2 separate regions of the Homo sapiens genome follow, and region 2 is linked to region 1. A link means that fine-mapping ties the variant in region 1 to the plasma level of a protein whose gene starts in the linked region. Region 1 holds a variant in brackets. A gene starts in the other region. All regions are shown on their forward strands. Region 1 has its middle 50 kb from the start of BCAS1. Region 2 holds the start of FGF23 (fibroblast growth factor 23).

What was found. PIP is the posterior inclusion probability: the model's chance that the variant is causal. The UK Biobank Pharma Proteomics Project read protein levels with antibody pairs (Olink). The fine-mapping took linkage between variants from a reference panel, not from the people measured, so its PIPs are less certain.
Region 2: it holds the start of FGF23, and the variant in region 1 is fine-mapped to the plasma level of the FGF23 protein (UK Biobank, PIP 0.97).

The regions. Positions count from the first base shown.
Region 1 is chr20:54,118,020-54,123,403 of GRCh38, forward strand. No RefSeq gene overlaps it. Among named protein-coding and RNA genes, the nearest start is that of BCAS1, 50 kb to the left of the region's middle. The variant G/C (reference allele first, on the strand shown) is at 3,397.
Region 2 is chr12:4,376,749-4,382,132 of GRCh38, forward strand. FGF23 (fibroblast growth factor 23) reads right to left here and starts at 2,964. Exons shown (of 3, transcript NM_020638.3): 1 at 2,624-2,964. The coding sequence starts at 2,834.

The sequences.
Region 1 (5,384 bases):
TGATGGTGGGGGGAATGGTGGGTGGGTGGCGGGGGGGACTCTGACTGATCTTCCCGATCCCCTCAGTTTCGTTACTCTGTTGACAGTGGGAATTCTGAGGGGCTTCTCAAGGGAAAAACATAAAACCTGACCTTTGTGTAATTCTAAAGCAAGACCTTAATGAAAACTTGCTTTTAATAATGAAGAATGACAGTATCAAAAGTCAGGAAGCTTCTCCATAGACGTTGCAACTAAAATATATATCAGTGAAGATGCTTGTTGCTAATAGGCGGGAACACAAAACAAAATCTAATGTACAGAATGAATTTCCTCTTTGGACTCCTGGCGAGTGAAAGGTAAGTAGATGCTAGAGGCATTGAGCTCTGTCGATTGCTTAGGCCGCATATTTCAGGACTGACATGTATTAGCTCAGTGCTTCTCCACAAGGACAATTCTACCCCCAATCCCAGCAAAAGATGTGTGTCAATGTTTGGAGACCTTTTTGGTGTCACACTGAGAAATACTACTGTCATCTAGTAGATAGGGGTCGGGGAGGCTGATAAACATTCTACAATGCATAGGACAGCCTCCCACAACAATAGCGAAAATCTGATCCATAATATTATAGTGCCAAGGTTGAAAAGCCCTGAGTTAGAAAGATGTTAGGCAGTTGTCATCAAATATTAACAGCTAAAGAAAAGTTTTTTGTGTTTGGACATGTGTCTTAGCTAGGGTTGCCATAACAAGACACTACCCATTGGGTGGCTTAAACAATAGGCATTTATTTTTATCATCGCTCTGGAAACTGGAAATGTGAGACCAGGTACCAGCATGGTTGGGAGAGGGATAACTTCCTGGCTGGCAGATGACTGTCTTCTTGCTATGTGGCAGGGAGAGAGAGAGCAAGCGAGCAAAAGGGAACATGATGTCTTTTCTTACCAAGGCACTAATGTCATGAGGGCCTCACCCTAACAATTTCATCTAACCCTAATTAACTCCTAACAGCCACATCTTTAAATACCACCATATTGAGGGTTGGGACTTCAACATATAAATTGTGGGGGAGGTGCTAACACAATCATTCATTCCATACAAATGTAACTAATAAGGTTAAACATGTATGTAGCATTTACTCTTCTAAGCGCTTTACATGTATATGAACTGATCTAATCCTTGAACAAGTCTAAAAGGAGACAATGACTTTATCCTCATTTTACAGATGAGGAGATTAAGTAACTTGTCCAAGGTCACTTTGGTTGGGGATGCAGAGCCTGGTTTCCAACCCAGGCAGTCTGGCTCTAGGGCCTGTGTTCTTAAACTTGATGTGAAGAGTAATTGACATACTCCATCCGTTGAAACTTCCTCCAGTTAAAACAAATAAGAAATTATATGTAATGACTGCATTGGCGTAAAGAAAAATACAGGTTGGATTCATTATGACGTATTCATTATCATTATTATATTTCTTTTTCCTTCTGATTTTAAAATAAATTGAAATAAAAACATTTTTGTGGTCCTGGGTCCTGACACTATTCCTAATGGAGAAGTCAGCCTTGGTGGCAGTGGGTGCTGTCAGGAACATGATGGATTGAAGAAAGTCAGGTGTGAAAATGATGGGAGTTTCAGCAGCCTGGGAAGCTGCGCCCCTGCTCTGGGGACAGCAGTTGTTCAGCTCCAGCCCACTGCTAAGAAGTGGAGGGAGGTCAGAGAATGAGGGCTTAGTATTGACAAACTGGCAAATGTTCCAATTTTAGAGAAGAAGCCAAGAATCCAAATACAAGTGTTCTTTTGAGTCAATTCAGTTTCTACAAACACTATTATGAAAGAAAGAAAGAAGAAAGAAAGAAAGAGAGAGAGGAGAGGAGAGGGAGAGAGAGGGAGGGAGGGAAGGAAGGAAAGAGGAAGGAAGGAAGGAAAGAAGGAAGGAAGGAAAAAAAGTAACAAAAAGGGAGGAAGGCAGGGAGAAGAAGGACAAAGCATCACATTTGGTAAAGGAAATGGGCTTTGGGGTCAGATATGCCTTGGCTGGTCTACTTGCTAGGCATGTACCTTGGGCAACAGATTTCGTTTCTCTAAATCTCATTTTATCATCTGTAAAATGGGAATAATACTAGAATGCACGTTTACCACCAGGATGTGGGTACTGAATGCGAATTAGATTTGCATCTCATTGTTAAAGTGCGGTGGCATTTCAAACCCAAACGGGAACTTGCAGATCAGATTCCAGTGCTTTCTGGAGCTAGAAAAATGGTATATATGGGCAAACGAGCCAGGTGGGGCCTGTGGCAGACTGGAGAGCTCAGACCCATCTCAAGGGGAAGCTGCTTGGCCAATTCTTGCCATCTGGGGATGTGGCCCATGTCAGACACATCTCCCATTTTAAACAGTAGTTAGGAATCTGGATTGTTTGTGAAATGTCTCATTTATGTTTTTAATCTTAGTAATAGATTCCAATTTTTGAAACTACAAACTGGGGCTGAATGATACATGCCTGTAAACTGGACAAGGCCCAGGTGGTCACCAGTTCATGGCCTGCTCTGAACAGAAGGCGAGTGTCTAGACAGTGTCTTCCTGTCTTATAGGTGCCCTGGTGGCATCTGTAGACATATCTGTAGTCCAACAGGGCTAAGTTCTTACAGATCAGGTTAGAATATTAATTTAGTGATATAGCTCATATAAGAAAATAAGAATTTTTTAATCAGTTGGGTCCTGGACATCGTGACTGGCAATGTCAGTCTGGAAACCGAAGATGTCACCAGGAAGAAAGGACAAAGATGTGTGAGGGATGGAGCAGGGAATAGACTGATTTTTTTTTTTTATGGAAAAGAATAAAAGAGGATGAAATAGAAGAACAAAAGATTCAGACATGCAAATCATAGTATTCTAGAGAAATTTCTAGGCCCAGAAATCATGAGGAAAATAATGTTAGTTTCTTTTTCCACCCTTTCCAATGAGATTTTTCATGAGGGTAGGAAAGTACTTCTCTTATAGAATTTTACAGCTGAATAGAACTAAAGAGACCTTTAGTTTTCAAGTTAAAACATTTTTTTTTAAAGTAAATAAAATAAGAACTGCAGTGAAGAAATGACTGGTCCATAGCCATGGCACATATGAAAATTCCAAATGTGTATGAGGTAAAGCTAGGGCTTTGCATGAGTGAGATAGACCAGGTGGGAGGTTCTACGGAATGGTGGAAACAGGCAAACAAGCCAAGGGTCTGGCCCGTCCAAGGGGGCTTTGTTACTCAGCTGTAGCCAGCTGTGCTAAGCAGAAAGTGGGCCCACCATAGACAGATCTAACTTTTTTTTTTTTTTTTTGGGATGGAGTCTCACTCTGATGCCCATGCTGGAGTACACTGGTGTGATCTTGGCTCACTGCACTCTCCATCTACCAGGTTCAAACAATTCTTCTGCCTCA[G/C]CCTCCCAAGTAGCTGAGAATACAGGTGCGCACCACCACGCCCAGCTAATTTTTGTATTTTTAGTAGAGACGGGGTTTCACCATGTTGGCCAGGCTGGTCTCAAACTCCGGACCTTAGGTGATCCACCCACCTGGGCCTCCCTAAGTGCTGGGATTACAGGCATGAGCCACTGCGCCCGACTGGCAACAGGTCTAACTTTTGAAGGCAAGAGAAAAATATCAACTTTGAGAATGCACTCCCTCAATTTTTAAAAGTTGTCAACAAATTCAAAAGTTTAAAACACATCATGCAAGCCAAAAAAGCCCATGTGAGGTCCACATTTGGCTGGGAACCTGCCAGTCTGTGACTTGCATTAAAGAATCTTCCAGCATCCCACACATTTTCTGACAAGGTAGTTCTCACCTCACTTCCTGTCAATGTTTACCTAAGTAAGGAATGCTTAGTGTGATCATTTTCTTAACTCTTTATCCTGAAGAAGGACCTTCAGTAAAGACAATATTTTAATATTTTACTTCGGTTTCCTATATTTTACTTTGGTTGCCTCCATTATTCACCAATTTGTGCTTGTTCAGCCAGAAATTCAGGAACCACAGGAAAGCTGTTGACTAAAGAAAACCTTAAACTTTCATCCCAGTTCTGTTCACTGTTTTTTATTAAAGAGTTTTCTTTTTATAGTAAACTAAAGAGAGGATGTTCAGAGTCCAGGTTCATGAGCTGCAGGGCTTTTTTTTTTTTTTTTTTTTTTTTTGCTCAGCAGAACCCCAAAAATAGAATTGCAAAAATACAATTTGGTAAATCTTTAATGCCCAAATACTACTCCTTCCCCTAACTAAGTCAGCCACTGGAACCATTTCTGCCTCTGCACATGACACTGACCAGGAGGCTAAGCCCATTATTTATGCACGGCTGATTTTATTTCTCAATTCATTTTGAGCATCTTTAATGCAAAACAACAAGAAAAACAGCAGCAAAACACCCAGCCTGATTATAAGCCTTTTCTCCTGACTTTTAATGCAAACTTGAAGAATGAGCCAGAGATGACTCATAAACTCATGAACTTCAGTTTCTGGTGAAGACCATCATTTAAGACAAAGTCAGTTCCCCAGACTGTGGGTTTCCCTATTTAGTGAACAAACATGTTTACTTTAAAATGCTAATCAAAAAAGTCCTTGAACAGACATTGTCTTCCCCAAAATTACTAAAATAGTTACCATGTTTCAAATTATTTAGAATAGGAAACTAAATTATAATAAAATAATTGAGGATAGAAATCTAACTGATTTTTCACCTATTAAAATTTGGGTCACAAATTATACACACACATATACACACACACGCACCTACACACACATGCATACACATCTCCAAAACACAAGATAGTAAGCACGGGAAAATTTGCCAAATGTCCTAGTGGATTGATCAACAAACAGCCCAGGTAATTCTGCATTTCTTCTTGGTCGAAGTCACTTTTTCTTCCCAACTTCTCACTCAGACTAGGTACAACTAAAATGTAGATAAGTAAGTCACTTTATCTGTGTTTTATTTAAGCAGTACGGTGGTTAGGTGCATGAATGCTACAGCCAGCATGCCTGGTTCGGATTCCTGGTTATGCCACTGTTATTGGTAGCTTAATGTGGAGTTGGTAAGACGGGGATGTGGAAATAGCAGTGTCAATTCGTAACTTGCTTAGGAGGATTAAATGAATGTATAGAACATTGCCTGGCCCTGTGTACAAATTCAAGACTTTGAGCTCAGTTAGTCTGGAGAGCTAGCAGATTCTTAACCTTTGAATCCCCAGCTAAAAACCCTGTCCTGACGAACGTTCATGCACATTTTGACGGCCTTTCAGAGATGCTCAGGCCTTCTCTGCCTCCCTTACTCCCCAGGCTAAGGTCCTCTACTCTAGAAAACACCTAAAGGAACCTGGGGATGTGAGTTACATATGAAAACCACTTTAGTCCTCCTAAGGACACCATACATATTTTCT
Region 2 (5,384 bases), not on the chromosome of region 1:
CTTCAAGTGATCCTCCCACCTCGGCCTCCCAAAGTGCTGAGATTATACGCGTGAGCCACCGCATCTGGCCTCTTTTGGGTAACTTTTAATTGTAGTGTGTAATTTTTTCCTGCACTTTTTTTTTCCCATAATACACATGACAACTCATTGAACAGTACAAAAAGTTATCTACATAGACTAGGAAAAGTAGATCTCCCTCCCACTACCCTGACCCGAAGTTCCCCTCCCCGCATTCATGTTTAACTCTTTAAAGATGCAATGTTTAGCTAGTGCCTATGTCTAAGGAAACAAAATCACATTTCTATTTTTAAAAATCTGAAGTCAGTTCAATTTATTTTGCTGCTTCTCAGTCATTTTAATTCACTCTAACTAGCACTCAGTGATCCCTTGGGGCCTGATACGAGGTGGGCTTTCAAGGAAAAGGTCTAAGTTCAGACTGCCAGCCCAGGAGGTTGACTCTTCACACTCACTCCCCACCGTAGCCGGCCTGTTCTGTTCTACCCTAATTCTTGTTCAGGAAGAAACGTCTTTAAGGAGTTCCTTTCAGCAACGGGATTCCAGGATTCGAGACAAGTTGTATAAACATTCTCTAGTTGGATGCAGCCCTTTCCATCTAAGAGAATCAAAATAATTTACCATAATCTACTATTCTGCATTTTAAATCACATATAGTCTTTTTTTTTTTTTTTTTTTTTTTTTTGAGATGGAGTCTCGCTCTGTCACCCAGGCTGGAGTGCAGTGGCGCAATCTCGGCTCACTGCAAGCTCTGCCTCCCGGGTTCACGCCATTCTCCTGCCTCAGCCTCCCAAGTAGCTGGGACTACAGGCGCCTGCCACCACGCCTGGCTAATTTTTTGTATTTTTAGTAGAGATGGGGTTTCACTGTGTTAGCCAGGATGGTCTCAATCTCCTGACCTCGTGATCTGCCTGCCTCGGCCTCCCAGAGTGCTGGGATTACAGGCGTGAGCCACCACACCTGGCCCACATATAGTCTTGAATTAGAGTAAGGGTGTCCCCTCCATGAGACATGCAAAATTGCATTTCCTGAAAGTCTGGTAGTGAGCTGGCTGACAAGGTAGGACGACAGACCATGAGGTCCTTGAAGGGTTGTGTCTTAGTTTTCAGCCACAGCGCTTGGTAGAATGCCAGGCACATGGTAGATCCTATTAAATATCCATTGAATAAAATGAACAACACTTCGGGTGCATCAAGTGTATCCAGATTTAATTGAAATTTTTGCCATGAGACTCAAACTTGGTTTCCAAGATGTTGACTCCTGAGTCTTACTATATTCTCTGGAGTTCTGGAACCTGTTTGGTATTCGGAGAGAACTTTCCTCTCTCCTTTTATCTCCTGTCAATATGCATTTAGTACTTGAAGAGGTTAAACTGTCAATTTCGCATGTTATATATCTTGCAACTTAATTTTGCATGTTGTATATCTTGCAACCAGGTTTAAGGACCTTTGGAGCCTAGAAGAATAAATGCCTCACACACAGCAAGGTCACAGCAAAAATAATTAATTTATTTATTACAACAATAAAGGGCAAATCATAATTCCTATGTTTTCTTTAGTTAGAGATTGTCTAACTAATTTTTCTTTCCTTTAATTTGAGCTATATTGGATCAGTTTGCATTTTTCTGTATGCTTTGAGGTGTTTTCTCACGTTTTCTTAAAATAGAAGATCCAGTCTTTTTCAATATCTATCCCTGCTTTCACCACATTACCCCTTATATAGGTGCACACAAAGGGACCCTCATTTGAATCATTGCTAATGGATTGATTATTGTGGATTGTGATCCAATTCTCCACAAACCTGATCTTTAAAAACATTCCAGTTGTCTCATGTTGCCAATAAGTTTCTAACTAGCTTGACTTGCTACTGACTGGACACCTTTCAGTTCCACAGAGAAGAATCACCAACTCATACTGGGTACCTGGGTACCTGGGTGTCTGAAACACCCATTAAACCTGTTGGATGGATGGATGGATGGATGGATGGATGGATGGATGGATGGATGGATGGATGCATGGACAAATGAATGGGTGGATGGGTTGTATACTTGGCCATTCTCACCAAGACAACATACATGGACAGTCTGTCTTTAATACATTTTTCCAAGAATTTTTATAAGGCCAGAGTTGGAAAGAGCCCCCAGATTTATCTATAACAATCTGGGTATGACCCAGGAATCTTTACAACCTCCCTAGTTAACCCAGTCCAAAGTCCATGAGCTGAAACTTAGTGTCTGTTGATCTGCCTGGCTTCTTTTTCTCTTAGACTCCTTGCCTTTCTTTCTGTACATTTTTTCAATCTTTTGACGGGGCAAAGGGAACATGGCTCCTACTGTGGGAAGGGTTTTAGTTGAAATAAAAATTATTCATATTGAGAAAAACCAGCAAATGCTAATTAGGAGAGTGACAGAATCTTCCCCTAAGTTTTAAATACACACGCACACACACACACACACAAACACACACACACACAAAGACAATAAGTGGTTCCTGGGCAGAAAGCTAGGAGGGTTGGATTAGCCCTCCAGTCTAGTCCCCAACCTCCCCAAGCCTCCTGTAGATGGACAACAAGGGTGCTCCCCTTCTTCCCAGCCTGAAGCCCTACTCACTGTAGATGGTCTGATGGGGTGCGCCATCCACATGGCCATTCTTGTGGATCTGCAGGTGGTAGCTGTTCCTGGCTGTGGCTGTGTACAGGTGGATCAGGCCACCCCAGCTGGAGCCGAGCAGTGGGGAGGCATTGGGATAGGCTCTGAGGACGCTCATGCTGCAGACGCTGCACAAGGCACAGACCCAGAGCCTGAGGCGGGCCCCCAACATCGTGCCCTGCTCTGAGTGGCTGGTGCTGAGATTGAAACCTGACACTCCTGTCGGGACTCTCCTGGCCCAGGCCTTACTGGCCTTTTCCTTCTCCCTTGCAAGTAGCTGGTGTGAGGATCCTAGACTGGATTCCCTCCTTTTTGCCGTCAGACTTTTAAAGGGTAGCAGTGTGACATCAAACAGGAAAAACTCCACTGTCCACATCCTCTGTGTTGTAATCAGCCCATTGAAAGAAAGTGCAAAGACCCCGGAGGCGCACGGAAGGCACGTCGGTTCCAGACACACACACCCCTCAATTTCAAGCCAACGCTCCAAAAAATGAATGACGTGTGGGCAAAAGTTATCTGCCACTCTGGGCTGTCTGTTGACCTGTCCCACTTCCATCAGGAAATGTGAAGGCAGCCAGCGGTTCCCAAAAAAAATCCAGCTTCAGTCAAGCAGTCAACCGACTCCTAGGCAATTAATCTCCTGTCGAGTTTACTTATTTTGGTTTTCTTTAAATTCCAATCAGCAAGTATGTATCCAGTGCTTAATCTGTGAGCAGGATTTGGTGGGTAGCTTGCAGGATATAGAGATACATGACACCATCAGGCAGATGGCATCCTCTAAGAACACCCACTTCATGAAAGATGGGAGCTAGGAGCAGGGGCACAAAAGCCAAAGTTGCCATTTTGGGAAGATTTTGAAATGGAAGAAAAAGAAGTAAGGCCTTGAGGTCAGTGAACATGCCAAGGTTCAGTTTCTCAGCTTCCTTAGTCTGGACTTCACTGAATATGCCAAGGTTCAATTTCTCAATTTCCCTAGTTTGGACTATCGAGGGCAACTAAACTAGTAGTCTCTCCAGTAGTAAGGAGACTCATTCAGAGACCTCATGGGGATTGGAACAGCTGCTGGCTGAGCACTGGGGATCCGAGCCTCAGGACAGGGTGTCCCCACATTTAGTGTCTGTACATGAGTGCTCAGCTTGGTGTTGGATGCCTGCCTGCAGATGCTGTTCACAGTGAGCCCTCTGGGAAGCTACACCTGATGTCGGGTGGAATAGTCCTGGCACATACAGTCTAAAGGGGAGCAAGCTACTGGAACACACACCCGAAAAAACACACAAGGAGTTTGCTATTCTTCCAGTTTCCCTGTACTGAGTATATGCCATGTACAGGCATCAAGCTAGACTCATGTACAGGTTGATATAGGAGACAGCAAGATGTGATTCCTATCTTGAGGAGCTCAAATCTAATGCAGGAGGCAGATAAAAATAAGTAACTATAATACAAAATGAGTGCAAGCTTACAGGTATAGACAGAAAGAGATGGCATTTGTTACCCTACATTTGTACAGTTTTTTTTTATAGTTTACAAAGCATTTTCACATCTATTAGCTTATTTGAACCTCACTGCCACTCTGTGAGATAGGCACTCCATGCATTATCAAGATTTTAATACTTTACATGAAGAAATGGAAATCTTAGTGTTTCCATGTCCAAAGGCACAAAGCAAATAAATGGTAGAGCCAGGACAAGGTCTTCTCCTTCCCTAGGCTGCTTCTCCAAAGAATCACAGCAAGAACTAACGCTCATGGAGAGCTTACTGTTCCACTTACTGCTCTAAGTGCTTTACTTGTAGTAACCCATTTCATCTTCAGAATAACTCTTTGAGGAGATGCTGTTATTTTCTTTATATAGATCAGGAAACTGATCTATGCACACAGTTTAAGTAACTTGCCTAGAGATAGAAAGGTAACATGTGGAAGAGGTTGGATTTGAATCCAGGTCTGGCCCCAAGACCTCCTAAGCACTTTTCAAGGTGTCCAAACCCATACAACATGTTAGAGCTAAAGCCATGAGAGCCAGGAGCTTGGTAAAAAAGTGCAGGTGGCAAAGCAGTCCTCTGTTATTCTCTAAAAACCCAGGCTTTTACCCAGGATGAATCTCTAGGACACATGGTGCTTGTCTCCCCAGGGTTGAGTGGAAGAAGTATGACATGAAATGTTTATATGTAAAACAGTCTTCTTTACTAATAGCCACAGAATGGATTATAAATATAATGCTACGTCTTAGCTAATTGAAGAAATAGCTAGCTTTCAGAATTGAGATGCAAATCACTTAGGAACATTTGCCCTGCATTTCTTATTCTGGTTGTGAAAGGTAAAGAGATGGGAAGTAATTATAAGGCAATCAGCAGCCATTGAGAACCTTCTCCATGTAAGAGATGAAAGGGAGGGTGTAGGACTACAAAGCAGGACTAACTCCTCTAGGGGCTCCCAGTGTAACTGAGCAGGGAACATCTTCGTTCAATACAAGGCACTGTGTGGGAGGAGCTTCATTACTAGGAGCAAATTAGTGAAGATGTGGTACTATATTTATAAACCATTCTGTGGCCATTACTAAAGAAGCCTGCTTTATACATAAACATTTAATGTCATACATCTTCCAAACAACCCTGGGGAGACAAGCACTATGTACCCTAGAGATTCACCCCGGGTAAAGACCTGGGTTTCCGAGAGAATCATGGAGGAGTGCTTTGCTGCCTGCACTTTTTTACCAAGCTCCTTCAC